Regions from separate parts of the Homo sapiens genome. Here all the other regions are reported to be linked to region 4. Evidence: microRNA targets listed by miRTarBase, many of them from high-throughput screens and not tested one by one. Region 4 holds a microRNA gene; each other region holds the end of a gene's coding sequence.
The links. Region 4 holds the annotated microRNA hsa-miR-3174 (UAGUGAGUUAGAGAUGCAGAGCC, at 3,404-3,426, opposite strand). A microRNA usually pairs through its seed, bases 2 to 8, with sites in the 3' UTR of a target mRNA and lowers its output. Matches are read on the target gene's strand: a 7mer-m8 pairs with bases 2 to 8, a 7mer-A1 pairs with bases 2 to 7 and ends in A, and an 8mer does both.

Region 1 (6,018 bases), not on the chromosome of region 4:
CATTTTTGTGAGAATGCAATGATATAACTCAGATAAAGCATTTAACATCACATATTACTATTATTGAAATGCTGTTATTAAAATAGTCGATAAGAGTATGGATTCTAACAGACTTCTTGGGTTGAATCCTGGGACCACCACTTATTAGCTGTGTGATCATGAAAAGTCCCTAACCTCTCTGTGCCTCAGTTTTCCCCACTGTACCATGAGAATAGTAGCTGTACCTTTCTCCTAGGGTTGTTGTGAAAGTTAAATAAATTAAGGTGTACATGCTGGTGCCTGACGCATAAGTGTGCTACATGTGTGAGCTGTTACTCAGTGGCAGGCCCCAGCTCCCAGCTCTACTGGTGTTGTCTCCATGGTGAGAGAAGACTGGAGTAGAATCAGGGCTCTCCAGAGGCCAGGCCCCCAGCCCAGGCCCCATTCTTGGCTACAACAGCCCCTTCCATAGATCCCTCTCCCACCCCCAAGCTCTCCTTCCCCTTGTCCACAGGGCCTCTCAATCCTTGCGCTCCAGATATGTCTATGCCTATATTCGCCCTTGCTCCATCCTCACAGGAGATGAATTAGGTCTGTTGCTGCCTGGAAGCAGAAGGAGGAACCCGATGACCTCCAGGAACCCTCTGGTTGGCTCTTCTGCCCCTCCTAGAGGGCCACTGGCTTAGGTGTGTTGAGTGGGCCCCACCTCCTCCTCCCATGGGTCTTCTGCACCCACGTGTTTGCTTTGAGTCAGGCCCAGAGCAGGTCTCCTGCCTTTACATGACTGGGTGGATACCCCAATCTGCCAGGGCCCCAGGTTAATAGTTGACTGCAAAACTGGGATTTGACTCTGGAACTTGGGGCCAGGCTCTAGGGAAGAGCTGGAAAGAGGTGAAACAAGGAGATCGCTTTGGATCCAGGCCAACCGGAGGAGCCCTGTGAGGCGGGGAAGAGTGGGTTTCTGTGGCTGCCTGGGCATGAAGGCATGAAGCCTAACCCCATCCTCTGTGGCCTGGACCAGCCCTGTCAGGTTCTCCAACTTCGTGCATTGAGACTGGGTGTGTCCGTGCCTACGGGTTTCTGTGTGTGATTGGGGTTGTGCTTTTTGCACACATCTGCCTCTCTGCCCACTGACCTATTTATAGCAAGAACCCTGGGCAGAGTGCTGCTTCCCCTAAGGTAGCCCAAGTTGCTGGTTCCCACTGCCATGCTTTCTGAAAGGGGCTGGCAGCCCAGCAGCCCAGAGAGCCAGACCATGCCCTGGGGAGCAGCTGGCACTGCACTTTGTACCAATTTCTGGCACTTATGGAAGATAATACATGGGATTCGAAGGTAGAATGGGGACTCAGTAGGGTGGGTAGAAGGGTTGCTGCTCTGATAACTCAGCCCCTCCTAGGGCCAGTGCTAGGGTGGTCGAAAAGCCAAGGGACCCCAGGTCTGGGAACAGCCACTTCCCTTGCAGGCTTAGCTCAGAAGTCACCATCCCACTGCCCTGAAAAGTCAGAACTTGACCGGATGTGGTCGCTCACACCTGTAATCCCAGAACTTTGGGAGGCCGAGGTGGGCAGATTACGAGGTCAGGAGTTCGAGACCAGCCTGACCAACATGGTGAAACCCTGTCTCTACTAAAAATACAAAAATTAGCGGGGTGTGGTGGCACGCACCTGTAATCCCAGCTACTCAGGAGGTTGAAGCAGGAGAATCGCTTGAACCTGGGAGGCGGAGGTTGCAGTGAGTCGAGATCGCGTCACTGCACTCCAGCCTGGGTGACACAGCGAGACTCCATCTCAAAAAAAAAAAAAAAAGGAAAAAGAAAAGTCAGAACTTTGGTCTCTGCTTCACAGGAGCCACTCTAGTGAGTATGTTGGGGGAAGAGAGGCTGCCCCAGACCCCCCTTCCACCCCAGAAGGCCCTATGCTCTCACCAGGCTTTGGACCCAGGAGGTAGTGGGATGGAGAAAGGACCTGATCCAGAGGACAGATAAGTGGCCACCCCATCTCCGGGAAAGAATCAGTCCTGGGGGATAGGACCAGTGCAGGAGTGTGAAGGGGAAACAATTGGGAGGAGGGTGGGTGAACGTGGGGAGAGCAGAGGCCGGAGGGACAGGAGAGCCCAGGAGAGAAGGAAGGCGTCACCTGGTGGCCAGGCCTGGAACTGCAAGTATCTCTTCTGTGAGGCCTCCTGCCCTGTGCAGCAGGACTAGGTGAGGGATTGAAAGTGCCCTGACCTCTCAACCCAGCACACATCAGGGAGAGTTAATCCAGGTTTGCAGAGGAAGGAGAGTATGAAAGCCGGCAGGAGAAGCGGCTCTTAATGGAGAGGCCTCTTCTGATGGCCAGAGTCAGGGGCAGGACGGGGTCATTTCTCGGAGGTCAGGGCTCTGGTGAGCTGAGCATCCTGGGTGGTGAGTGTGTGCAGTGTGACGTCACAGGGACTGGGCAGAAGGGGCCCCAGGGGACCCTGGCAAGCAGCCACCAATTCCTTAGCCCTCCCTTCAGATCCCGAGCTCCGGACTGCAGACAGGGTGACTGGAGCCCAGCACAGCCCTCTCTTCCCAAGCCCCAAGTCTTCCCTTTCTTCTCAGGGCTCACAGTCAGAGCTGCAGAAATGACCAGGAAACTGGGTTTTTAATGAAGAAGGTGTGATGCCTGTGGACACTGTACACACATAGAAGGAGTGTGGCACAGGGCTGGAGGAAAGGTGTTCTCACCCCCTCCTCCTCCTCCACTTGTTACACCACGGGGTGGCTGAGAAGCCCCAGGTGCCTCATGGGTGGATAGAAGCCCACCCTGCCAGGGTGAGGTCTTCAGACACTCGCGTTTTTCCTGCCTCTTGGGTATCTGTTTAATCCCAGTTCCAGAGGAGGGCATGCAGGCTGGAGGGAAGAAGTGGGGGAGAGGTGGGAAGGGATGCTCCAGACACAGGCAGAGAGGTGAGTGAGCTGGGTTGGAGAAGAAGCATGAAGCAGGAGCTCAGAGCGCAGCACAGCAAGCTGGCCTGTAGGGACAAAGAGGCAAAGCCATCAGTTCCCGGGGACCTGTGTGCAGCGCATGAATCCCTGACTTACCTACAGCACATGCAGTCCCCAGGGCTTCTCAGCCCTAGCGCACCCCGGACTGGATCTTCATTCATAAGGGCTCCTACAAAACCTCAGCTTCTCGGCCCTCGGGCACAGTTGCTCCCCTTTTGGGACCCCTCACACCGCTCCTCCACACTGCGGCCCTCAGCTCTTACCTAGCCTTGCCATGCTACTCTGTGGCTGCTTAATTCCCACCTCCATGCTTCTGTTGCACCATCAGCCCTTCAACATGCCCTTCCCTTTATCAGCTAACACTCGCTCGTCGCATCCTCAGAGAGCTCCTCCTCTCCAGAAAGCCTGCTCTGACCAGTGCTGTCTGGTGGATGCCTGCCCTATTGCACATTCTCTCAGCACTTCCGTAGAGGGTTTTACGTGGCCTGATTTCCTTGCTTTGCCCAGTTTCTCCAGCTATTTCCTCAGATGGTGGGAAGTCTTAGCTTCTGTGAGTGGTAGCTCCTTGGGAACAGGTACTGTGAGTGCTGGGTACTTCGCAGGGAGCACAAATAAAGGACATCACCAGGAGGTATTTAAAAGTGCATAGATTCTCAGAAAGTCAGAGATGAAGGGATCCCAGGGACCCTCTAACCTAGTGGTTCTCAAACTCTCATGTGCATCAGAATCACCTAGAAGGCTGGCCTCACCCCAGAGTTTCCAATTTAGTGGATCTGGGGTGGGGGCTGATCATTTGCATCCCAGGTGATGTAGACGCTGCTGGTCCCAGGACCACACTTGGAGAACCACTGATTTGATACAGCCCCCAATTTCATAGATAATGGGAACAAAAAGGGCCGCCAAACAGAAATGACATGCCCAAGTATCATGGTGCTGGAGCCAGGACTGAGCCCAGGAGAGCCGACTCAAATCAGTCTCATCGGTGCCTTAGTCCGTGCATCCGTGCACCACACTAAGTACAACCCGCCTGCCCATTGTGGACTCCCTCATTATCCTCTAGACTCTGATGGACCCCAGAGAAGGGAGCTGGTCTCTAGGTACCTCTATTGTGAGGTCGGAGACTTGGCGGCATCAAACATCTTCTTCCGGCCTTCCATGCCAGACATGGCCTCCACGTTCTTCCTCCAGTCACCCACCTCCACAGGCCGCTCCTGTAGACAAGTGGCACACACATCAGGGACTTACCAGGCTGGACGGCCCCCCAGCTCAAGAGAAGCTGGGTGATAGGAAACCAGTCTCCTCGGATGATAAGAAATCCTGATGCCCCTCCCCAGCTGGTAAGGTCCTAGGACTCAGCCAGGCAGGTGGACACAGGCCAAGCCGAGGCCCCACAGGAAAAAGGAAGCTGTGTGGCTTGGGAGCACTGGGTGAAAGTGGCAGCTATGGGGCTAGTTCCCACCTCAGTGCACCTCAGCAAAACCTCCTCCAAGGCTCCATGCCACCCTCCTGGTCTGGCACTCAGCAGGCTCAAGGCCACCTCTTCCAAGAAGTCTTCCCCTGCAAATGCGGCTGCTTTTCCATTTCCTCAGTATATTGTCTGGCTTATCTCTTCTCCTCTGAAGCTTCTTGGGCCAGAGACTGTTCCTTCATCCCTGTTCCTTACAGAGCCTATCAATTTGGGGCACATATACTGTGAATTCAACCAACTTTGAATAATTTGTTGCTGGGTGGTTGAACTCAGTTCTCTAATGTCTATGCTCGTGTGTGGCTATAACCAAGATGAGCTGCTGTCTCCTTTCCCTGTGGTGACCAGGCAGTCATCTCCACCATTACCCTAAATCTCCACATTATCTTCACACTGGGAACAAGATTTTTACTTCATTTCTCCGTCTGGGGTCTAGCTTTCTTTATGTCCTAGTTTCTTCGTCAGACTGGGAACAGCCTGAAGGAAGGGAGCAAATCTTCTTTCTTTCTTCCCACACTGGTCTCCCAAAGCATTCTAGAATGTTCTGTCTGTCAAGCTGACTGGTCTCCAACAGGAGCTCCTGGGCCAGCCTGAGGCCATGTGAGGGGTTGACAAGGGGAAAGCTGGTAGGGCAGAGGGTGGAATGTTCTGAGGAAAGGGACCTCACCTTCTCTGTGTCTTCCTTCTTCACAGACTTGAGGTTGGCCCGCAGATCCATGGACACCTTGTGCTTGGAGCCCAGCAGGGCCCGGAGCATGGCGTCAGCCGAGACACGGACTCGACGCAGGGGCGGGCGCTTGAACTTCCCACGGAGGTCCATCACCTTCAGCTTCAGGTCCTTAATCTGTAGGTGAGAAGCGCCCGGGGCTCACTGGAGAGGCAGCTAGCCACAGGACACCCTTCCTGAGGACCTCAGACTGCTAGGGTTCCAGCCAGAGATACACCTTAAATTGTCCACCCTTGAAGCCAGACCTATCAGCAGTCACCAACCTTTTTGTCACCAGGGACCGGTTTTGTGGAAGACACTTTTTCCACGGAGAGGTGGTGGGGTGGTTTCAGGATGAAACTGTTCCACCTCAGACCATCAGGCATGAGTTTGATTCTCATAAGGAGCGTGCAACCTAGATCCCTCACATGCACAGTTCACAATAGGGTTCACACTCCTGTGAGAATCTAATGCCGCCGCTGATCTGACAGGAGGCAGAGCTCAGGCGGGAATGCTCATTTGCCCACTGCTCACCTGCTGCAGTGTGGCCCAGTTCCTAACAGGCCACGGACAGGTACTGGTCCACAGCCCAAGAGTTGGAGATCCCTGCTCTAGGACAGTCAGACCCACCCATCCCTTTGCAAATAACCACTGCACATTTGCTGATAAACGGATGGTTAAGTGGACAGATAAAGCCTATTAGCCGTTGCTAACACTATAGCCTTGAATAAAAGGGGCGGCTCCACCAGACTGAGACTTGTCTGATTTGGAAGCCCTATTTGGAGTGCAGGGCTGCTTCCTCTTGTTCCTGCAGCCTCATCCCTGCTTCTAACTTATTCCTCCCCAGTGAGCCTTCAAAGCAGCTCACAGCCTTGGTCCAGCAGGGTGATAAACTTA
Region 2 (6,053 bases), not on the chromosome of region 4:
TGGCACCTAGCGTGCTTGGCATATAGTAAACAGTCAGAAATGTTAATGGGATGAACAGCCTCAAAAGAGGGCTGGAGGTACACAGTCACAGCCATTCCTGAAGAAATATAGTGTGACATTGCCCACACAGGTGTTTGAAAACAACCCTTTGAGTCTAAGACAGAAAGCGGGTTGAAGGGATTTTTTTCCAGTCCAGTAAACCTGTGACTTTGAATTGGGAAATACTACTAAGGTCAACGGGCAAGGGGCCAGTGCAGAGTGCTGTGATAAACTGAGAATGCTAAGGACGTGATGGCATTCATTGTCCAAATCCATATTATACCCCAAGGCCAGGATGGAGCCGGGGCAGGTGCGGCTGCAGGCATTGAGCACTGGCATCCCCTCAGGGGTGCAGCAGCTGCTCCCCTCCCAGATGGTTTCTGAGCATCAGTTCCTCCTCTGCACCAGAATGTTTAGCAATGTCCTGGGTGGATGAACAAGGAGCTGAATGAAGAGTCTCTGTTCTCTGGTTGTCATGAGTGTGTGGTGATGGGGAAGGGAGCCCAGGAATGAACTCATCTGAACTACAGACATAACCTGCCTTGGGCGAGATAAGGCAAAGAGTCCACCTGTGCTCTAGGCCTTCCTTCTTAAGCCCTCCTTGAAATCCAGTCAGCATGGCTGTTTTTCCCAGGTGTCTGACCCTGCCCCCAAGATCATAGACCTATGCTGTCCAGGATGGCAGCCGCTAGCCACGTGTAGCTACTGAGCACTTGAATCGTGGCTGGCATGGCCAAGCGCAGTTGCCCATGCCTATAATCCCAGCACTTTGGGAAGCTGGCGGGTCACTTGAGGCCAGGAGTTCAAGACCAGCCTGGCCAGTATGGTGAAACCCCATCTTTACTAAAATATAAAAAAAATTAGCTGGGCATGGTGGCACATGCCTGTCATCCCAGCTACTCAGGTGGCTGAAGCATGAGAATTACTTGAACTCGGGAGGTGTAAGTTGCAGTGAGCCAAGATCATACCACTGTATTCCAGCCTGGATGACAGAGCAAGACTCCATCTCAAAAAAAAAAAAAAAAAAAAAAGAAAAAAGAAATATGGCAGACATAGCTGAGCTAGTATACCTTTAATTTTATTTCATTGCAATGAATTTAAATAGTCACATGTGGCTATTGGTACCATATTGAACCATATTGAACAGTGTACACACACTTACACACACACATACACACAGTTTTTGCCCTAGTGGCTACTATAGAGGTTTTTGATCCCTCCTTTCCCAACAAACACTGGATTTAACTCAAAGGTCCATTCTTCCTTAGGTTTTTGCTATTTCCCCCCTTTTCCTTTAAGAAGCCATTGATGGACCTCATTGATGGAAAGTTCTGTAAGTGTTGCCAAGGAACATCAGTATATTTTTCCTGTAGCTGGCACCTTTGAGGGAGTCTGGTCTCCAAGGCCATCTGTTTTGCAAGCAAGGGTGAGACAGCCACATTCCTCATCCTCAGACCTATGACTCTACCATGGCGAAGGCGGTGACCAGGGAGGGCTGGGACATTTGTGTCACAGAAAGAGTCCCTGCATTGATCATTTCTGAGTGATGTCTGAGTGGGGGTAATACCTAATGTTAAGAGAGTAACCATCTGACTACATCAAGACTTTTCATTTTCAAAGTATTTTATTTAAATAAATTTTTCTTTTGTGTGTGTTTGAATTTTACAGAAAAAAATACTGACAAATACTATACAGCTTGGACCCTTTATATTTTTCTTGGAAAGGTGGCTGCCATTTTTCTACCTTTCTCCCTCCCTGCTCCCCCCAAGAAAAAGAAACATGGAATCCATTGAGCAATGGGGAAAGGAGCAATGGGGAAAGGCCTCCTCTGGCTGCCGTCCGGAGCCTGGCTAAAGCTGCTCAGAAGTCCAGGCCTAGGGGATGTCTTTCTCGAGCCTGTGCTGGTCTAGGAAGCCTCTTCTTTAGGAATCATTTTTTTGTCCCCCGTGAACTTACCCTCCCCAGATGAGTCAAGCAGTCTCTGGTCCTGAGGTCCCATGGGTTGCCAGTGGCAGTTCAGGGACAGAGGCTGGAAGGAGTGAAAATGGAGAGGAATAAAGGGCTGGGGCTGGTCTGGTGCAGGCAGAAGAGGGAATCAGAGAAGCATAAAACATGGAGAAAAAGATGAGAAGGAAGTGGAAAGAAGAGAGTGGATATCAACAATGGCCTTAGGCTCCTTTCATGCACCTGTTTATTTAACAAAACGTTTAGGGCCTATCCTGCACTGGGACTCCTCTAGTTACGCCAGGAAAGGTTGTCAGGGGAGTCTGTGATGGGGAAAAGAGAGGCCCCATTCTGGGTTTGGCTCTTCTGAGTCATCGGCTGTGGAAGTGACTGAGAAGTGAGTTTCTGGGTGTTTCATCCCTGGGGTGAGAGCAAGTCCATTGGATTAGGAGACAGCAGGGACATTGTGCCTGGAGATAGAGGCCTTGTCATGGCAATGACAACTGACTGCTGTCTTAATTCAAAGGAGCAAGCAGTTGCCATGGAAACCATGTTACTTGTATGGTCCCGGATCCCGGTGATCCGCCCTCCTAGATCATATCTGACACTACGTCTCAGCTGTCAGCCTCCACCTCTCCCCAGCCATCCATTCTAGGGGGACTGAGAGGTGGAGACAGGAAGGGCAGCTTGTCCTGGTGAGCAGTGGCAGTTGTGGGGAGATGTCTTCCACATCCCTGGGTTTGGTGCAGGCAGATGGCAAGTCATTCTGTTATGTGAAGGGCACAGCCAGAGGCCCCATGACAAACTCTCTATGTGACAAGGGGATAGAGAACCAGAGTGCTTCTTTCTCTGGTCAAAGGGGTTGATGAGTGGGAGGCCTGAGTGCTTAGGCAGTTTATGGCCATATAGGGTGAGAGGGCAAATGTGACTGGCTATAAAATATATGCAGGTTTAAATTATGATTCACAGGGTCATCTGTTAGAAAACCCTGGTGCAAGGGTCACCACTAAATGCCCACCCTCCACAGGCCTAAAGTACACCTGGAGGGCAGGTGAGTACCAAGCAGCCCAAGTGAGCAAATAGAATATATCTTTCCTTTAATGCAATCTTATAGAATTTAGTTTTTTGCTACTATAAATATCATAGTTTAGCTACATTATTAATTAGATAGCAATTTTGCCACTGTGTAGAATAGCTTCCTTGGGAAAATATTTCAAGAGAGCTGCCCAGCATATTTGTAAATAAACTTCTAGAGCATAACTTGCTCCCAAGGAGTGAATTGTCCATCTTTGTAATACAGTCACAATACAATAAAAATACCAAGCAGTTCATCCTATAAGTGGATTAACTCTGCTTCCCAACCTCACTCTGGCGGGGAAAGCCCTCCTCAGCTCACTGTGGATCTAATTTACATGTCCTCACATACCTCAAGGCACATGTGTCACCTACATGTGCTCTCCAGCATTAAACACCCAATTTCATCCATTGCAGCAATTAGTGGGCTCACTTAGAAGAGAAGATCACTCGGGGAGAACTGGTGAGGTATTACAAGCTTACCCTTAACAACATCACATATCCAACAGTAACCACAGTTAGTTATAAGTACCTACTGTGTGCAAGGCACTTGCCTGAGCTTCAATATAAATATAAATAAACCTCTTTATAGCTTCATCCTACTTTCATTTAAACTCTGTTACCTCTGCATCCCACCTGTGCCATACCGTGCACACATCACAACCTTATGACATCACTTCCAGTGTTGCCTTCTGTGAGACTGCACTGATGATTGTCTAGTTCCTTCCCTGCTGGAAACTTTGGTTATATAGGAGATACCTAGCTCAGGTGTAGCATCTCCTCACCCTTTCCATCTGTAAACATTGCACAGGTACACAGTTGCAGTCCACTGACATAAATGAGTGGGCTTCCATAATTTTCTAGCAGTCACCACCAAGAGCTCTTTGTTCTTGCTTGGAGAAAGGCACTTTGCTGAGTGGTTTGCGGGGGTAATGTTTCACAGAGAGGTCTTGGATCACATTAAACACCTCTCAGTGGCAATGAGGACGGACTTTGTCATGAGTTACAAGAAAAGAGCTTTCAATGAATTTTGAACCATCACACTTTAAACATCTTGGCACAGGTGAGGGGTCAGAGGCACAGAAACTTGGTGTGTCTGTATCAAGACACACAAGGGTGGGGACTGTAGCAGGTTGCTGGAATGTCCAATTATGAGTACTTCCAGTAAAAGTTTATGTGTAGAGTTAGAAATAGGAAAGCATGCATCTGTAACCTGAGTGGTTTATGGAATAGATGGTGTATGGGGGCCTTGCTGGTTAGGAAATTGTATATATGTGTCTGAATCTGGCAAGGCTTTCCCATGAGACATTTTTGTGACTGTAGATAATGTACTTCCCTGCACAAAGTACATAGCCAATGACCATTTGATGAGCAGAATATACTTGCCCACGTACCTGCTACCTGAATTTGTGTGTGTGTGTGTTACGTGCATGTGCACACACTTGGGAACCATATTGAGATGTATGGATAAATGTTCTTTGTGCTTTGCATGTGGGGTATGCCAGAGACAGGTGGGAGGCATGCCTGGGTCTGCAGTAAGGAGCATTGCTATTGGACACATAGCTGCCAAGACAGTATCCAAGAATTGTCCACGTGGTCCCTGGGACTGCCCTCCACTGGGACACTTAGTCTGAGGTTTGTTCCTTGGTTGAGTAGTTACTCTGTGGACATGGACATAGTGCATTATTTCAGGGGTTCCTGAAATGTCTGTGTGTGGTCAGAAGGAGGCTTAGCCCCAGAAAGGAAACACCTCTGCTTCCTGCCTAACTAAACAGGCAGTGATGGTCTCTTCTCCATCTGGAGAAGCTTGGGTTGAGCAGAGATCCAGAGGTCTTCTTCATCCTTCTTCTTCTTCTTCTTCTTCTTCTTCTTGTTCTTCTCTGGCTGCTGGCCCCTCTTGCCTGGTGGGCTCCAGCAGCAATGGCAACAGATGAAGAGGAGTGTGATGATCACCAAGAGTGGCAGGCCCAGGAGGACTCCCAGGCAGATGGTGTTGTAGATGCCTTCTTGGTGTTTGGTCAAGATGGTGTCCCAGATAGAGCTGAAGAAGGCACTGATTCTCTCCATGGTGCTTGGCTAGATTAGGGCCAGAGAACCCTCTCGGCTTACAAGCAGGTCCTGGGCTCAAAAGGATGCAACCTTGACCACTTGTAATTTATTCCTCTTCCAGCTTTGGGTTTGGGCATGCCACTGGCAGCACCTGAAGAGATTAAAACAGACAACTGAAGAGAAATGCAGGGGGACTGGTCTACAATTTTAATAGTGTCATAGATTTTAGGCTTAGGAAAGGGGAAGGAATTGAAGATTTCCAGGGTTCAGTAAACTTGTATTGACTCAATAAACAAGATAAATGCATGCATGTAATCAATAAGCATCAACTAATTCTTGCTATGTACACACATTATATTGGGCTTAGGATATAAAAATGAATAGTATATCAGGTCTGGCACGTAGGAAGTTCTCAGTAGTTGTTGGATAAATGAATCAATGTGTGTGTTCAGTGTTCTGATAAGGGGTTGCTTCCCTGGACCCTTCTGCAACAGCAGTTCTCAATCTTTTTTCCACTGTAGCTCACCTGACAGATGTTGAACACACACTCCCCACAGGACAGGTCTGTATGTAACCTTTTATTAACATAACTTGCCATTTTCAAAGCTTATTGAAGCTTAAGCACAAAGTGAGATGTCTACTTCTTGCTGTCTGTAGTAGGGAACCTGGGTCTCCTCTGGGCTAAGAGGTCATCAGTCCTCATCCTGCCCCATGCCTGCTTTCCGTGCTGTCCCCTCATGATCTCTTCCCTGCTCCATGTCTCCTCCCCTCCTTATATCACATTCCTGTGCCTGAGAAGTCCTCTCCTCCCAAGGCTGAGAGAACCAGGGGTGACCATTTGCTGGCTTTCCACTTTCTACCTTCTACCTTCCTCTTCCTCATTACCCTTCTCTATGTTTTCTATTCCTTGACCAAATACTCCAAAGTCTCCTGCTCTCTTTCTTCTC
Region 3 (6,053 bases), not on the chromosome of region 4:
GGCCGTGGGGGTGGTGCCATGGGCCACATGCTGCTGCCCTTTCGCCTGGGCCTGGGGGGCCCCATCGGCTCAGGCCACCAATTCTTCCCCTGGATACACATCGGGGACCTGGCAGGAATCCTGACCCATGCCCTTGAAGCAAACCACGTGCACGGGGTCCTGAATGGAGTGGCTCCATCCTCCGCCACTAATGCTGAGTTTGCCCAGACCTTGGGTGCTGCCCTGGGCCGCCGAGCCTTCATCCCTCTCCCCAGCGCTGTGGTGCAAGCTGTCTTTGGGCGACAGCGTGCCATCATGCTGCTGGAGGGCCAGAAGGTGATCCCACAGCGAACACTGGCCACTGGCTACCAGTATTCCTTCCCAGAGCTAGGGGCTGCCTTAAAGGAAATTGTAGCCTAAGTAGGTCGTGGCAAGGGCCTGAGGCCTGTTCCTCACAGGCTTCCAGGTTAGGCACTGTGAATAGGCTCAGCTCCTCTAGAGAGCTGAAGCCATCTGGTTCTTAGATTCCTCTCCCAGTCCTCTTTCCCATTGTTCTGTTGCTCCACCTTATTGTCTCAAGGCCGTAATCTCATCAGGTTGGGACATTAATCTTTTCAACTCCTTGTAAGATTTCCCAGTTTGGTTTCTCTACATGTCCTGCAGCTGCCCCACTTCTCCTTTACGCTGTGTAGAGAATGCTCTGCAGTTTAGGCAATAAAAATAAATTGTCTCACTAACCTTGGCTCATCTCTTTGGCCTAGATTCTCCTGGGATTTACTTCAAGGAATGTCACCCTAGATGATTCTTCCCCAAAGACGGGGTTTTGAAAGTTACAATGAGCAGTCTCTCTCATCACCGTTTCCCTTCTTGGTCCTTCAGTTGCCAAAAGAACTTGTCACAAGTTTGGGACATCAGGTTATGATAAAGATAGACACTAGAAGAGAGAATGATGATCCATTTCCAATGGGCCCTGTAGTCACCCTGGATGCTGTCAGAGTGCCATTAGGATGCCAGTAGAGGAAGAGGTAAGGCCCAGGTGTAGGATAGCCTTCAGTCTGTGTCACCAAATGGCAAGTGCATTACTAACCACACAGTGGTCCCAGTTTATCAGGCTGCAGCAGAACAAAGTCAACATCCCTGTCTATAAGAAGCTTAGGACTTGCCTCTCATCTGACTGGGGCCACTCAGTCAACCAGGGCCCTTAGCACAAAAGGGCAGAAGACACTTTTGGTCTACTGCACACCCACCATCACTGAAAGTGAAAATGGCAAGAAACCAATCAAGAAGTATAAACAACCCTATCAGGAAAAAAAAAAACTCCAAGGTTTTCATCTAGGACCCTTTTTACCTACCTAAAGCTGTGACATCTGCCATAACTTGACCAGACACAGTTCCCCCAGCCACCAGTTCAGGCCATACTAACCAATCTCTTCTCAGGGACCGCTGGGTTATCTCTTAATCATTGTCACCTCTTTGACCAGCCTGTCTCCAACACACCTGCCCCCAGCCTGGGTCAGTATGGTACAGTGGTGTAAATCACCAAAAAGGAAGGGGTGAGGACACAAGGACCCTCCCCATCATCATTACACTCGCCATGCAGTATTCAACTCCCTGTGCCACTCAGAGGGAGGCAGAAGTCAGGGCCTGGAAAAGATCTTGTCTAGAGACTCCCCACAGGCCCACACAGAACAGAACCCAGGGGCACCTGTCCTACTTCTTTATCTGGTCTTGGATTCCAGGAAGTTGACTGGCTCTGTATTGTTCCTGGAGGTATGACCAGCCTCAAAGGTGGATGTAACAGAAAAGCATACTTTAGGCTGCACTAAAGTAAGGAGTACTGATTAATACCGTCTACACAGGGAATGTGCTACCCTGGAGATAGTAAATTCCCTGGCACAGGAGGACTTCAAGCAGATCCAGGGCAATGACCTCTAGGAATCAGGGTGAAGAAAGCATGTCAGTAACAGCAGAGTTGGTCTGGTGGCCAGTCAAGTGCCTTCCAACTCTGGTTCTTTCATTTTCCAGATAATTGGTTCATCTAGAACCAACTGGTTCAACTTCCGTTAAGTCCTCCCATCCCCATACACACACACATAAAGCAGAAGTGTGCCTTGCTTTATGCAACATACGTCTTCCATAGAGAAAATGTTAGGGTCGGATCACATTAATATTGTCATTGCAGAGCATGGCTTCATCGATTGGTGAAAAATCGACGTGTTCATCTCAACACCAGGAAGTGCATCTAACCAGGGATTTGCCAACACATTTGTTAGTCTGTAAACAACACCTGAATACAACAGGAGAGCTGCCATTTATAGGAACCCTGAGAGTATTTTGATAATGCAGTCATCCCTAATTTACCTACTGTGTAAATGTAGATTTTGGAGGTTGCTCAAAAGGGATGCAGCCATTATAGGGCACGTTATAGTGAGAATGCAGTGTTAAAATCTAGGGTGTGGATCCTGGAGACAAAGGACCCACATCTCTCTGAAAGTGAGGTTTCGGTTAGAGAGCCTGTGCAGCCACAGGCAGACACACCTGAGACTTGGTCCAAGCACCTTTCCTCCAAGAGGCTTTCCTCTATGTTCTCATTTCTCCTCCCAACAGGTATTTTTACCCCTGATTTGTAGGCAGAAGTAAAGCCCAAGCAACTCAATCAAGGTCACAAAACAGGCATAGCTGAGACCAGAAGCCAAGTCTCCCTCTGCCTTCTTCACTAGCTCACTCCACCCTATCGTGGCCCAGTCCACATAACACTGTGCCAGGGCCTAGCATCTCCTTCCACGCTCCCAGGAGCTCAGCAAGGGAGCATCTTGTTCTCTGGCCATCCAGAGCAGCAGCCAGGGAGAGGAACAGCTTAACTTCCTGTCACTTCCTGCCCACCCTGCCCTCCACCCTAGCTCAGCTTGGAGGTGGAGCCAACAGTCTCAGTCTCCGGAACTAATCCCCTCTAGCAGCCCCCACTCCCTACAGAAACCCTGTGCTAAGGCAAAGTTGAGAAGTTAAGGCTGAGCAGAACCTCTTGAGAGCTGGCTGAGGTCCTGACTCGGTAAGATCAGTTCACTTTATGGACCTGTCCCAAAGTGGCTTCCCTGATCCAAAGCACCAACTCAGGGTGCCTCTGGATCAGAGTGAGCAGCAGAGGGACTCTCACAGAAAGGGCTGAGCTGGAGGCGGCTGGAGCTGACAGGGCGGCAGCCACTCAAGCAGGTGAGGCTCAAAAGTTAAGACTGAGCAGGGCCTCAGACAGTTGGTTGATGTCCCGGCAGTATGGCTCCCGCTGCAGGATGAAGTCCACTTTGTGATCCTGACCCCAAAACACCTCCAGCAGCTGCCGCCGGAGCCGCTCTGTTTCCCGGGTCTTCCGAATGCCACCACTACCTTTTTCCTCTTCTCTCCCCTGCTGCTGTTTACCATGTTCTGCAAAGCCCCTGGAAGGATGCTGAGCCTTAGAAGACCCCTGTGTCCTGGGAAGAAACAGACCAAAAAGAGCTGATGAGCATCCTGGGGGGGAAATTAGATCTTAGTGGGCACCCCTCTCGTAATTGTCCTGCCTATTCCTGGCTTTGGGGGAGAAATCCTGAAGTTCCTGAAGCTGACCACTGAGTGGCAGTATCAACCCACTTCTGAAGGGAAGATGGGCCGTTCTTTTAGAAACAGGGTGAACTCTGCCACTATTATGATCTAGTTCTAGTCCTAAATGAATCACTTATGTAATGGTCAGCAGAAGGCATGCTGAATACAACTGGCTGTCAGTATAAGCAACCATTTTCCAAATAACTCCATCAAACATGCTGATTAAGAGAAACAGGAAGCAGGTGTTTCCCTCCCAGCAAGGAGGTTCTATGTCAGGATCCCCTGGGAAGCTTATAAAGGCCAAGGCCAATGCAACTCAAACCACTGCAAAATTAAGCTGGCCCAAACTGAGGTCACACTTCCACCCAAGTCTCTGGGCCTGCTGAGAGAGGGCCAGGGGTGGGGGCTGCCTGTAAGTAGTCTAGGGGATTGATTACCTGGCTGGCTTCTTCAGAAATTCATCCAGGGTGGGGCCGTTTCGCCCCAGTGGGTCATCAGGTACCATGAAGAGGTTTCCCACAAAGGTAAAGGGCAGCAGGCTGGATGGCGAAAGATAATGTGTGGTCACAGAGGGGGCCCTTGCCCACCTCCCAGACAACCGAGACCAGTATCACCAGAAGCTGCTGGCTCCATCCTTCAAGAAAACTTCACCTCCTTCCCAGAGTTTTCACCCCATGGCCAGAGCAGAGCTGGCTTTAGAAAAACATCTGCATCTGTGCCCAGTTCTCAGCGGGAGGGCTCCCTCACCGTTCTCTGATGATTGCCATCCACTTCTCAGACTCCTCCGCCAGGTCCCGGAACTGGTCATTGGAGACAATTATCCCATCTGTCTCTTCAGCCAGCTTCACCATGAACCTGTCTCCAAAACCACAGCAACCGAGAGAGGGTTGAAAAATTACCTACTGGGTACAATGTTCACTGTTTGGATCATGGTTACATTAAAAGCCTAGACTTCACCACTATGCAATATATCTATGTAGCAAAACTGTATTGGTATCCCCCAAATCTACAAAAATAAAAGTAAAAACCACAGCAACCATTTGGGACTCTCCAAGGCCCCAACCCCAGAAGTTTTACTGTCTCCCATAGGCCACTTCTGGTGATGGAGATCTGGCCCCCTACCTCACCTTGACCCAGCTACAGGCAACTGACTAGATGCAAGTGCCATGGCCTAGAGAGGAAACAAAGATGAATCCAAGGTGGTCTCCCAGTAGCATCCTATCTGCCAACCATAGTCCTTCACCCAACACTTTGTGCCTCGTTAGTAAACAGTAAGATCTAGCTCTGTCTTCCACCCTGCCCAACCAATCCCTTGCAAATCCAACATGCCTTTCCTTTGAAAAGCCTTGTGCTCTGCTCCCTTCCTTCCCAGGCCCACCATTACCACCCCAGTAATTCAGATATTGCAACTGAGATTATGCATAACCTCCTAACAAGGGGGTCCCCGCCTCTGACCACTCACCCACCCTCCAGTCTCCCCTGCCCTGCCCCAAGAAAGCATGCTTATCACCTACACAAAACTCTTCCACACTTGCCCTTTATTTACCAAATAAAGTCCACACACCCAGGCCTGGCAGCTAAGGCCTTCTACAGGCCAGCTCAAATCACCCTTACAGCCTTATCTCTCCCAATATTCCCTAACCCACTCTCAACTCCAGCTAAAATCAATAATCAGATTACACTCTGCTCTCCACATATGTCTTATGCTGACTTCCATATTTCTCCAACTATTTCCTCTATCTGGAAGGCACTTCCCAAGACTTGCTAAGGAACAGAATTACCAAGGGAACTTTTTTAAAAAATGCCTGGGCTCCATTCAGTAATTCTGATTCCACAAGACAGGGTAGGACTCATGAAGTGATGGGTGGTGGTCTTTTTAACAGATTTAGAAACAGAGATCCAACCCATCCCAGTCTTCTCAACACAAAAACTCACAAATCTCTCCTTTCCCACAAAACCCCAGCCAGAATGGGGCTCCTTTCCCTCTGAGTTCCTGTAGTGTTTGATTTATGGTTTCTTTCGGCTCTCTAGTCAAGAATCAGATCTTGTTCCCAGTGTTCCCACCTCCTCCTGCAGGCCATGCACCTAGTACTAAGTGAGCAGTCAGTATTTGAAAGATAGTGTGGTATAGGGGGAACTGGGAGTCAGGATTAGGTGTGACAGATATCAGGCTCTGAGCTTCTGTCTGGGAAACAAATTAAGGGAATGACATACAAATGTCTATGGCCGGGCTTGGTGGCTCACGCCTGTAATCCCAGCACTTTGGGAGGCTGAGGTGGGCGGATCATGAGGTCAGGAAATCAAGACCACCCTGGCCAACATGGTGAAACCCCATCTCTACTAAAATGCAAAAAGTTAGCTGGGCACGGTGGCATGCACCTGAAGTCCCAGCTACTCGGGAGGCTGAGGTAAGGGAATCACTTGAACCTGGGAGGCAGAGGTTGCAGTGAGCCGAGATCGTGCCACTGCACTCCAGCGTGGCGACAGAGCAAGGCTCC
Region 4 (6,053 bases):
TGTCTACAGGAGACATGAGGACAGGGATCATAGGCCAAGAGTCCTATACAGGCTGAAACCACAGTCATGGTAGGTAAGCAAGTAGCAATGAACTGTGGCCAAGGCACCAAAGCATAGCAACAGGAAAGAATGGTACAAAAAAACAGATGAGAGAGGTAGGAAAAGGACCCAGAGTGATGAGCCAGACCCAAGGTGGAGAAGACTATTCATGACAATAACTGCTATGGAGAAGTCAGGTAAGAGGAAGTCACAAGATGGGCCACCGGGCAGTCAGGTAAGAGGAAGTCACACAAGATGGGCCACTGGGCATGAGTAGGTGGCCAGGGACCTCTAGGAGAGCCAGCTGGAGTGAGAGTGGGCTGGGCTGAAACGCTCCACTGTTGTTGAGCTGGCAAGGAGAAGAGGGGGAGAGAGGAAGTGGGGACAGAGTGGACTCTTCTTTGTGAAATCCTAGGGTAAAGAGAAGTGACACAGGTTGGGGTTGGGGAGGGAGAGAGAGGTGTGACTGTAGCTGTAGGTAGAGAATTAAGGCATAGGAGGATGTGGGGTGCCCAGACCTAGGGAGGAAGCCAGGGCAGGACACAGAGGAACAAGCAGTGGGGCTGATGGTGGGCACATGGGGAATGGACCAGGGAAGTGGGCACAGATTTCCCAGGTTGGGGCAGGGGTGGGCAGGGCTGCTTCAAGGAGTGCTGTGTAGTGGGAGGACAGGAAGAGTTCTGAATTTCAGAGGTGACCTGCTTCTGGGTAATGGCAAGTCTACAGTCTTGTGATTTGCAGCTACAGAATGGAGCCACGATGGGAAGCGATGGCTTGTGAGCCCAGGGCCCGAGGATCGGACATCACAGAGTGAGATTAAACTGACCAGCACTACCAGCTTCCAAAGGGTACCTGATGCTTCTCAAGGGGCCAGCTTGGACTTGGTCCTTGCGAGGACATTCTGATGTGCCCCAGGTTTTAGCCGTTGTCTTTTACCAAACACATGCAGGACAGTCTTCCCAGTCTGGAAGCCCATATCCTTGCAGTCCCACCGAGAACGGGATGGGGTCCGGGATGGCATTTCAGGTACCATCCAGAAGACAAAAACACACATAACCAAGAGTTATCACAAAAGTTATAGTTTCCCATTTAAATGCGGAGGGTGGACATTCCTGCTTTCTGTAGTGACCATTCTAACTTCATTTCGATTCCATATATATAACATGCTGGGGGCAGGGAAAGAAGAAAGGGAAAATAGTTGGGTCGCAATATGATCACTTATTCTCAGCTTCCGACTACACTAAAAATCCTCACATTTCCAACAGTTTTCTTAGTTCTCCCAGAAATAAACACACAATAGAGCATATGTATTTAATATCAGAAAATCCTTTACAATGGTGATTGCGAAAGAGACCAACCCACTTCTTTTCTTTTTTTTTTTGAGACAGGGTTTTCAGGCTGGAGTACACTGAGGCCATCATAGCTCACTGCAGCCTCAACCTCCTGGGCTCAAGCGATCCTCCCACCTCAGTCTCTTAAGTAGCTGGGACTACAGCTACACGTGCCACCGACTGATTTATAAAACTTTTTTGTAGAGACAGGGTCTCACTATGTTGCCCAGGCTGTTCTCAAACTCCTGGGCTCAAGCAATCCTCCTGCCTGGGCCTCCCAAAGTCCTGTGATTACAGGCATGAGCCACTGTGCCCGGCCTCCAACCCACTTCTAATAGTTCTTTTACTTCATGTATATATATATACATATATATATATGTATATATATATATACACACACACACACACACGTATACTATATACATATATACACATATACATATATATACACATATGTACTATACATATATATATACTACATGTATATAATAAAGATAATACATACTGGATAAAAATTCAAACAACACAAAATGAATGAGAGAAAAGACAAAAGGCCTCTGTACTTGGGGTAGGCACTAGGGATGGGGGAAGGGTCAGGTCTGTGAGCCATACACATTAATTAGTAGGTAATAAAAAACAGTTGTTTTACCTTTTGAAGCTGCTGATTCAACATATATTTGGCTGTGCTTTGGCTGTAACATCCTTTAATCCCTCCCTTTCAGAATCTACCCCAATTTCCTGTTGCCACCTTACCTCCCTGATTTAAGGGTGCAATTCTTCAAGTGCCTTCTTTCCAATTCTAGAATTTTTAATTTAGCCTTTGGTGCGGCAGCAGTTTTGTTTTCTAATTACTTTCTTTGCAAACAAGCATGAGTTGGGCCCAACAGTGATACAGGCTTTCATGGGCTAGCCTGGCAACCTGGAGCTATTCACAAGGTGCTTCCTTGGGAAAATGCTTTCTATGTTTTACATGAACAACTGGGGAGATGCTTACTTGTAAAGTGGGGGTGGGGGTGAGCCTCTTCATCTGTGCTACCAAAAAAGAGCTCGCCCCTAGTCCTGCTTGCCCTGTTACTAGGGTAGGCTTTGCAACCAGCGACTCTGGGACCCCAGTGCCTGGGTTCTAATCCTGGCTCTGAGGCTTACTAGATCTGTGACCTCCAGAAAGGTATTCAACCTAAATGAGCTAACAGTATGTATAAAGTGTTTACAATTATGCCTGGCATATCGCATGTGCTGTATAACAAGAGAGTTGGGTGAGGTTAGTCCAGTAAGACATTTGACAAATTCTTAGAGCCGCAATCTCCCTTGAGGCCAGTGAAAGCTACGGCTCCTCTTCCCAGAAAAGTGCACACATGTAACCTTCTGCACAGTTTCAAGTACCCCTGACCCTTGAAGCCCACCCACACACTGCAAGAGTCCAGGACCCCTGATTTCAACCGTCTGGTCTTCTCTACAGTGATGTGAAGGTCTCAGGGATAAAACTCTGAGGCAATTCTTAAAAGTATTATGTTCCCATGCATGGAACTATTGAGCAGGTGCCTCTCTCTCCCCGTTTTAGGTTCCGCTTTTGGCAGAAACGTTACACCTTTCCTCCCCAAAGCCCTTTTGACCCTTGCCAGTTTTTCTCTTGCTTCAGGCCAAATCCTCCCAGGGTCACCTTAAGACAATCTCTGTGTGCAGCTCCACACACTTTTAGGGAATTATTCTGATCCTTATCAAAAGCTCTGATGGTTCAGCCCATCTTCAGTGCTTACAGAAGTCAGACCAGAGCATGGACTAGAGTCTGCAGGGTCTCCATCAACAGCAACACAGGGGTGGGTCACCCTCAACAAGCAGGTAGACAGCACAAACTGGAAAAAGCCAAACATCAGAGAAGTCACCCCAGGGTGACTTTCCCAGCGTCACCCAATGAGCTCCCAGCAAAGCTGAGAACCTGTCATTTCAGTACTTTTGAGTCCATCAGTGCTTTACAGACATTACCATGCATGTGAATTAAAATGCAGATCCAGTAGGTTTGCTGAGGAGCCCAGGGCTCTGCATCTCTAACTCACTACCAGGTAACGCTGATGCTGGTCCATGGACCACATATGGAGTGGCAAGGTTCACATCAAGGTTAATGAACTGTACCACCCTGGTTAAAGCCTCTTCATCCACACTGCAGGTGGCTATTTAAATGTCCTTTCTTCAGGAAAGCCTCCCCTCCCCCTCTCCATGATTACTGGCTTCTATGCCTCTGTACTTTTTCCTTTGAAGCATTTATAACCACTGTAATTAAAGAGTATTTGTGTAATTATTAGTTTAATGCCTGCCTCCCAGGGAGACTGCAAGCTTCACGAGGACGGGACCTGCACAGTGTCTAGCACATCACAGACTGCCAATGAATGAGGAGCTGCTGTGGTCTGGAACAGGCTGGGCCAGCATCCTGGAGCAGGCAGGTAATGTTTACACATGTGGCAAACAGCCTCTGGTGGTATCAAGGCCAAAAAGGACATTTCTTAGTTTTAAAATTCCCACTAGTTTCAAATATATGCCAACTAAACTTTAACCTGAAAAGCAATCTTTGCCCATAAAAAGATCTCCTACATCTTTATCAAGTGCAAAATAGCCCTAATCTCACAACAGCCACTCTGCTTGAGGAACAGTTAGGCCCCTAAAATAAGCATTCCCTTATAGGCCTCACTGGGTGAACCCTCTTCAGGCACACTCCCTGACCAGCCTCCCTCTGCTGCAGACCCACAATTTCTTCTTTAGTTTTTCTGCTGCTGTCCTTCCAAGGAACCCCAAAGTGCTGAACGCCCAACTCTTTGGCATGGGCAGAGACATATGACCACATCATCGTTCCTGAGAGGCAAAGTTTGAAGTTAGACAGCCTGGGTTTAGATACCAGCTCTGTGCCCTTGGACAAGTTATTTAACTCCTCTGCCAAATGAGGATAAGAATGCAAGAGCCAGCACCTGCAAGAACTAAGAGAGACAAATACACAAAGCACGTAGCATAATTCTGGCCTAAGACACATGATTATTATTATTCTCCCTATATTCTGAGTCCAATTCAAAACCTATTGTTTTAGGCCGGGTGCAGTGGCTCACGCCTGTAATCCCAGCACTTTGGGAGGCCGAGGCGGGCAGATCACGAGGTGAAGAGATCGAGACCATCCTGGCCAACCTGGTGAAACCCCGTCTCTACTAAAAATATAAAAATTAGGCTGGGTGTAGTGGCGCATGCCTGTAGTCCCAGCTACTCAGGAGGCTGAGGCAGGAGAATCGCTTGAAGCCAGGAGGCGAAGGTTGCAGTGAGCTGAGATCGCGCCACTGCACTCCAGCCTGGTGAAAGAGTGAGACTCCGTCTCAAAAAAAGAAAAAAAAAATCTAAAAAAACCTATTGTTTTGCACAAGTCTCCACCCAGGGGCTCCACCCCATTCAGGATCCTCTCTTCCCAGCCCCCTCCTGCCTCACCTGTCTGGAGCTTGTTTGAAGCAATGACTCACAGCACAACTCTGCAGCTCCCATCAATCACCTCCCTGTCCCTGCCTGTGTCATTCATGGGTTCCTTCTGGCAGGCAAATCTTCCCTAATGTCCAGTACATTCATTCAGCAAGTATCTACTGAGGGCCCACTATAGATCAGACCCTATTCTAGGCACAGGGGCTCCGCAATGAACAAAGCAAAGACGTCTACCCTCACAAACGTTCTAGTACATTTAACCCACAGATGGAAATCAGTTCAGGTCTTGGGTCCTTACACTCCTTCTCTTCTCTCCTGACCAATCCTAAATAAATCACATACAAGTCAAAGTATGAAGAAAGCATTCCAGATCAAAAAATGGTGTGATGTGAGAAAATCCCGATGACTAAACTGCTTCTCTGATTGTTGGACTTTGAAGAAGTCAGTGTTGAAACAGCCTGAATCACCCAGTTCCCCCTAGTTGTCTCACTGGCCAGTCACATCCTCCAGCACAGTTTCTGTAACACATCTGGAAAATGAGGCGCTCCATTTACCCAACTCGTGTGCGGCGTGAGCGCACGGTTTCATGCTCTCATAGCTACATTCTTTGAAGTGAGCTTGATTCGGGATCCCCAGCAGTAGCAGAGACAGTGGCCTTGTAGAAACAGCACTGGGAACAGGCTCTGAAAGCTCAGGTTGAGTGCTGGCTCTGCCACTTACTGTGTAATCCTGGGTACAGAGCTTTCTTCCTGCCTCAGTTGCTTTCAGACAATCTCTAAGGCCTTCTTCCAGCTTTGAAGTCAAAGGGCTGGGAGCAAGCACCATTAACAGCAGGCCCAGCACATTCACAGATTCCTTATTTCAACATAATGAGTCCTGCCGCGGGCTAGGCCCTGGCTAGGCCTGAGGAACGAGGGTATGGGAGGGGTCAGCAAGCCAGATTATGAGCCTGCGCCAAGCATCAGCACTGGTGGGGCCAGGGAGCTGACTTCACTTGTCTCCTCCAAGATGCGCTGGACTCCTCCTTTATTTATTTATTTACTCCCTTCTAGAAAGAAGTTGTGCTTCTTTCCAAACACAACTCTGCTAGAAATATCTCTGGGCCACAAGGCAAACCTAAAATAGAAGTGCAAAATCTCTGGTGGTCCCATTAGTCTCCCTTCCTCCAACTCAAAAACCATTCCAGACCTTGTCTGTCTCCTTGTCTCTAGACAGTGAGCCTAAAATAAGTCTCCC
Region 5 (6,053 bases), not on the chromosome of region 4:
TGAATTTCTTTTGCTGGCTTTCTCATTCCTCCTATTCTATCACTTAAAGCATTTACCTGCCAGCCCCCAACATCCCAGATCTCTCCCCACTACCCTTGGAGAGCTCATTTCTTCTCCTGGCTCCAAATCTTGCCCCTGTAGACACCTATCCCTTATCTCTGTCTGCCACTTAGATATAGCACCATCACCTTCAACTTAGTAGGTTGAGAATTGAAGCTCTCTCCCAGGAGAGCACCAGTTCCACGTCACCAACTGGGTGTTAGTGATGCTGCTAAGTTTTCTAGTCACTCAGGTTTGTGACCTTGGACTTGCTGCCTCCTTTTTGGTCCCTCTGACATGTCTCCTCTTTCCTCCTTCCCTGCCCACTCCTCCATCCCATTCTTTACATCACTCCTAGGCAAACCTTTCTTTGACCTGACACTGCTTTCACTACATTCTTTCTTTCCCTGCTCAAACTTTCCCATACCCAACTGGCTCCTCCATGTAGTTGTCAAGGCCACCATGATCTTATCTCATCCTACCAGTTCAAATGGGCTTTTCCACTACTGCTCAAAATAGTAATAAAACCACCAGCCACACATTACAAATGAGCTTTGCACTCATCTCAATTAATCCTCACAAAGCTAACTGGAAGCCAAAAAGGCAAACATTGTCCATATTTTACAGGCTGAAATACTGTGACAGGCACAGGGTCACATAGTAAAAACTGCCTGGAGTATCCAGATCTAGAACCCAAATCTTCATTACTTGTCTGGGGCAAACTTCACTGTAACCTGGATATATGCCTTCCTCGCCTTGGATTCAGCAAATCCGTAGGAGGGTCTGCTCCTGAAAGGCTGTTTAATGTTTCAATGGGTTAAAAGAATAAGAATTTCTGCCCTCCTTTATACTTTTTTTTTTTTTTTTTTTGAGACAGTGTCTCTCTTCTGTCGCCCAGGCTGGGGTGCTGTAGCATGATCTCAGCTCACTGTAACCTCCACCTCCTGGGTTCAAGCGATTCTCCTGCCTCAGCCTGCCGAGTAGTTGGGATTACAGGAGGCTGCCACCACATCCAGCTAACTTTTGTATTTTTAGTAGAGATGGGGTTTCATCATGTTGCCCAGGCTGGTCTCAAACTCCTGACTTCAAGTGATCTACCCATCTTGACTTCCCAAAGTGCTGGGATTACATGAGCCACCACGCCCACCCTATACTCTTAATAGGTAAATAATCATTACTACTTGAATGAAGGCCACAGTAAATGAGGCAGGAGTACAAACAGTAGGCCAGGTAGACCAACAGCAGTGAAGCACCTTATGAACACAATCTGTAGGGGGTTCAGTAAGGGACTTGATATTATGTATTTTCCGAGCACAGACAGCATTTGAAAACGGCACGGAAGGTTCAATTCCTACAGACCATGGTAGAAGGGAGGGTGTTCCTGCCCAAAGAAACCGCATGTACATGTCCATCCCACTGCCTTTCCAGGCTCTCATGCAGTATTCCTAGACAAATCCAGAACTGATTCCTTGCCCCTGAACCTCTACTGTACTTTTATATCAAAGTTTAAAAGGATTCCTGTTCATCTTGCTGTTTCACAAGTCACTCTTGTAGTCCCAACTCGATTTTAAGATTTTTTTTTTTTTTTTTTTGAGACAGGGTCTTGCTCTGTCGCCCAAGCTGGAGTGCAGTGGCACAATCTCGGCTCAACTGCAGCCTCTGCCTCCTGGGTTCCAGCGATTCTCCTGCCTCAGCCTCCCGGGTAGCTGGTATTACAGGCACACGCCCGCACGCCCAGCTAATTTTTTTGTATTTTTAGTAAAGATGGGGTTTCACTATGTTGGCCAGGCTGGTCTCGAACTCCTGACCTCAGGTGATCCGCCCACCTTGGCCTCCCAAAGTGCTGGGATTACAGGCGTGAGCCATGGAGCCCGGCCTGATTTTAAGCTCTTTAAAGCCAAGAATGCGGTCATGCTTCCATTCTCTCCAAAACGTGATGGGGATCTGATGACAGCTTTTGCCCAAACTGTGGAAATAGTTCTGAGTTTCCAAAGTAAGCTTCATATCTTTCACTATGTTTTGATCACTAAGACTTAACCTAAAGAAGTCAATGAGTGACAGCAGCTTTCTCCCCATCCAGATATTTGCTATACAGGGATGGTCTTTCCCTTCTGGTCCAGAGTCCCAGTCTGGTTTAACAAGATCAGAATGTGTAGGGGAACGCATTCTCATACATTGCTATGAGAGTATAGTTAAGCACAATTTCTATGGACGAAGATATCAAAACTCAAAATGATCTGCTCCTTGATCCAGCATCCCATAACTCTAGCAGCCCATTTGCAACACAGTAAAACAAAGAACATTTTCTTCAATCGGGCACTGATTAAATCACAGTGGATCTCTGAGACATAGTAACTAGAAAAGCAAGGTACAGAACAGTATGCATAGTGTCCTGTCCATGCCCAAAATATTTCTGGAAGAGCGCACAAGGAAATGGTGATAGTGATGGCCTCAGGGAAGGGGAAAAGGGTGGCTGGGGAACAGGGGTGGGAGACTAGCTTTTTACTGTTAAGTTTTGAACCATGTGCATGTATAATTTTTTTAAAGAATTATGCAACAAATAACTTCTTTAAAAGTCTTCAGCCCCAGTACGGTCGCTCAGGCCTGTAATCCCAGCACTTTGGGCGGCTGAGGCAGGAGGATCGCTTGAGGCCAGGAGTTTGAGACCAGGCCAGCCTGGGCAACATAGCAAGACTCCATCTCTACAAAAAAAAACAAACAAAAAAAATGTTAAAGAGCCAGGCGTGGTGGCACATGCCTATAGTCCTAGCTATTCGGGAAGTGAGCCAGGATGGCTTCAGCCCAGGAGTTAAGACTGCGGCAGGGTATGCACCACTGCACCCAGCCTGGGTAACACAGTGAGACCCCCATCTCCTAAAACAAAATTAAAAAAAAAAAAAATTAAGGCCAGGCATGGTGGCTAACACCCGTAATCCCAGCATTTTGGGAGGTTGAGATGGGTGGATCACTTGAGGCCAGCAGTTTGAGATCAGCCTGGGCAACATGGTTAAAAGCCCGTTTCTACTAAAAATACAAAAATTAGCCGGGCGTCATAGCATACACCTGTAATCCCAGCTACTTGGGAGGCTGAGGCAGAAGAACTGCTTGAACCTGGGAGGCGGAGGTTGCAGTGGGCCAAGATGGCTCCACTGTACTCCAGCCTGGGAAACAAAGTGATACTCCATCGCAAAAAAAAAAAAAAAAAAAAAAAAAAAATTAAAAATCTACAGAGGAGGAAAACAAACAAAAATAGCAAAAATGGGACATCAATCCAGACATGAAGGAAAAAAACATTTTTTAAATATTCATCATTGTGGCAAAAAAAACCTGCCCTTAAAAAACCAGAAACCTAAGGTTTAAAGAGATGAGTGACCCCTCAATTGTTCCTCTGAGAATAGACTGTGTCTTTCACCTGCTTTTTAAGTCCTCTTCCCAAGGTCTGGCCCGATGTTTGGTCTCAATGGTTGTGTAATGTCTCTGAATGGATGAAATTTACTTCCCTACGGAAAAGTAAAGCATTCTCCAAATGCAAGCAGTTGTGAAACAGTGATAAAGGTCGAGGGGGAAGCAGCATGGCTGAGAGCTGCTTTTGCCTAATGTATTCATTCACCTGCATGAACCAAGCACCCACGTGCATGGATGTGTACTATATACAGACTGTGAGATGTGGACCTGCCTCACAGTGTACCAGGAGAGATGAGAGCATACACAAAGAATCACTGGGTAGAAAATCTACATGAGTTTTAAAATAGGGAATTTCTGAAGCAGCTTACTACTAACAGCTAAAAACCACTGGCTTGACCACATATACAAAGGCTGCAATCTCAGAGGGATATTTCATGTATTTAGTAAAACCTGGGGAAACGAGGAAGGCAGGGAAGTTGATAAGGACTTGTAGGCACACTTTGGCCCCAGGGAGGCAGGTGGATGCTGGTGGAGAGCATCACCTAAATTAGCTGCCTCCTTTCTTGGCAATCCTGTTATCTACACCATATGAATCCAGTCTTTAGCTGGATATAACCATTCGTTCACTCATTCATTCAACAAGTATTTACTGAACAGCCTAGTCTGTGCAGGCCTATGTTAACTGTCTCCAGCACACTCAATCCATGACATTAAAGTTACAGTTTTGGTCTTTGTGTATCAGCAATGACAGGTCCTCACTCTTACCACAAAGCGCAAGTCAGCTTGGCCTCTCAAGTGGAGAGATAATCGTTCTATAGCAAGAAGTACAAAGATTCTCTGCAGACAAAACCAGCTAGCCAAGGTTCCACAACATGTGTACACGTATAAGTCTGATGGATCAGAAGAAATATGTACCCGGGAATCAGATGTAGCCAGCCCACATACTAACAAACATCAAAGCAAGCCTAGTCAGATTGAGTCCCATTTGAACAATCTTTATAAAGGTTTCTTCATGTTATTTACAATTCAAAGTAAATTTACTTTATAAGCAGCTAGGGAATTCTTTATTTAGTAATGTCCTAACATAAAAGTTCACATAACTGCTTCTGTCAAACCATGATACTGAGCTTTGTGACAACCCAGAAATAACTAAGAGAAGGCAAACATAATACCTTAGAGATCAAGAAACATTTACACAGTTCAACTGTTTAAAAATAGCTCAACATTCAGCCAGTGAGTAGAGTGTGAATGCCAGCATACACAGTATACAGGTCCTTCAGGGAGGCAAGAGACCTTTCGACTGGTCTGCAGGTGCCTCCAAATGCTGGTCCTGTGGAACTTCTTTCTGAGTCTCGTTTTCTTCCAACGCAGTCTGTGGTCTGACACTCAAGTGTTCGGATTTCCGGGAAACGTGACTACCTCCGTGTTGCTTAAAAGACCAGATTTAAGTATCACAGAGATGTTATCATTTTCACTCAATTAATTCGCTAAAGATATATAACTAGGCACATTCTGTCACTGAGTGAAAAATTTAGCACTAATATCTTAGATCCAATTCTACTATAACAAATAGTAAACATGATTTTAAAAAGTCTATAGGGCCGGGCGTGGTGGCTCACGCCTGTAATCCCAGCACTTTGGGAGGCTGAGGCGGGCGGATCACGAGGTCAGGAGATCAAGACCATCCTGGCTAACACGGTGAAACCCCGTCTCTTCTAAAGCTACAAAAAATTAGCTGAGCATGGTGGCAGGCGCCTGTGGTCCCAGCTACTCGGGAGGCTGAGGCAGGAGAATGGCATGAACCTAGGAGGCAGAGCTTGCAGTGAGCCAAGACTGCGCCACTGCACTCCAGCCTGGGTGACAGAGCGAGACTCCGTCTCAAAAAAAAAAAAAAAAGTCTATAGAACCAAATTTCAAAAGCCCTAATGACGACTCACTTGTTTCAAGTAGCAGTCATTACCACAAAATTCTAGTATATTCAGTGTAACAGTATTTGACCTGGAGTTTAAGAACATAAGCCAAGGTTAGGGAAAGAAAACCAAGTCTCTCTTTAACTTCCATCAGATTGGCAACTCTGGTCAACCCTCTGCATCTACAGGTTCCACATATGCAGATTCAACAAACCACGGATCAAAAATATTTTAACAATAAATAAATAAAATAAAAAATATAAATTTTTAAAAATAGAGTATAACTACTTACATAGCATTTACAATGTGTTATGTATTATAAATGATTTAGAGATGATTAAAGTATATGGGAGGATATGTGTAGGTTATATGCAAAAACCACAGCACTTTATAAAAGGTATTTCAGCATCTGTGAATATTGGTATCTGCAGGGGCCCTAGCACCAATCCCCTGTGCATACTGAGGGACAACTATAAACCCAGTAACAATTTTAACAATGAAATACTCACAGTCCTTGCTTCGCCTACTCGTCTTAAAATGACACCTTCTGCCAATAAAGCCTTCCCTGTTTCCACAAATAACTTCTCTTCATCTGTTTCTCCAAGTTTCTGTAGCTCAGTGTACTTCTCCACAAACCTGTAATTCCAAGCAGTCACATTTTAGGTATGTTTGTAAGCATTGTTAAGACGCTGTTACACA

Region 1: miRTarBase lists TNNI1 as a target of hsa-miR-3174. Seed matches in the 3' UTR shown: 8mer at 1,833-1,840 and 7mer-m8 at 1,710-1,716.
Region 2: the mRNA of KIAA0040 is a reported target of hsa-miR-3174. Seed matches in the 3' UTR shown: 7mer-m8 at 2,380-2,386.
Region 3: miRTarBase lists SDR39U1 as a target of hsa-miR-3174. Seed matches in the 3' UTR shown: 7mer-A1 at 709-715.
Region 5: miRTarBase lists MRPS23 as a target of hsa-miR-3174. Seed matches in the 3' UTR shown: 7mer-m8 at 4,677-4,683.

The regions. Positions count from the first base shown.
Region 1 is chr1:201,406,275-201,412,292 of GRCh38, forward strand. It overlaps TNNI1 (troponin I1, slow skeletal type), which reads right to left. Exons shown (of 9, transcript NM_003281.4): 7 at 5,083-5,259; 8 at 4,052-4,161; 9 at 1-2,976. The coding sequence ends at 4,054. LOC101929343 (a long non-coding RNA gene) reads left to right here. Exons shown (of 2, transcript XR_241172.3): 2 at 1-95. Among named protein-coding and RNA genes, the nearest start is that of LAD1, 10 kb to the left of the region's middle. RefSeq lists an enhancer at 1,998-2,077.
Region 2 is chr1:175,155,890-175,161,942 of GRCh38, forward strand. It overlaps KIAA0040, which reads right to left. Exons shown (of 4, transcript NM_014656.3): 4 at 1,097-5,257. The coding sequence starts at 5,124. The coding sequence ends at 4,825. Among named protein-coding and RNA genes, the nearest start is that of KIAA0040, 34 kb to the right of the region's middle.
Region 3 is chr14:24,434,429-24,440,481 of GRCh38, reverse strand. It overlaps SDR39U1 (short chain dehydrogenase/reductase family 39U member 1), which reads left to right. Exons shown (of 6, transcript NM_020195.3): 6 at 1-716. The coding sequence ends at 399. KHNYN (KH and NYN domain containing) reads right to left here. Exons shown (of 8, transcript NM_015299.3): 6 at 4,303-4,410; 7 at 3,993-4,094; 8 at 1-3,446. The coding sequence ends at 3,197. Among named protein-coding and RNA genes, the nearest start is that of SDR39U1, 5.3 kb to the left of the region's middle.
Region 4 is chr15:90,004,137-90,010,189 of GRCh38, reverse strand. MIR3174 (microRNA 3174) reads right to left here and starts at 3,435; the gene lies at 3,349-3,435. All of the region lies in intron 1 of ZNF710 (zinc finger protein 710), which reads right to left.
Region 5 is chr17:57,835,063-57,841,115 of GRCh38, forward strand. MRPS23 (mitochondrial ribosomal protein S23) reads right to left here. Exons shown (of 5, transcript NM_016070.4): 4 at 5,864-5,990; 5 at 1-4,873. The coding sequence ends at 4,721. Among named protein-coding and RNA genes, the nearest start is that of MRPS23, 12 kb to the right of the region's middle.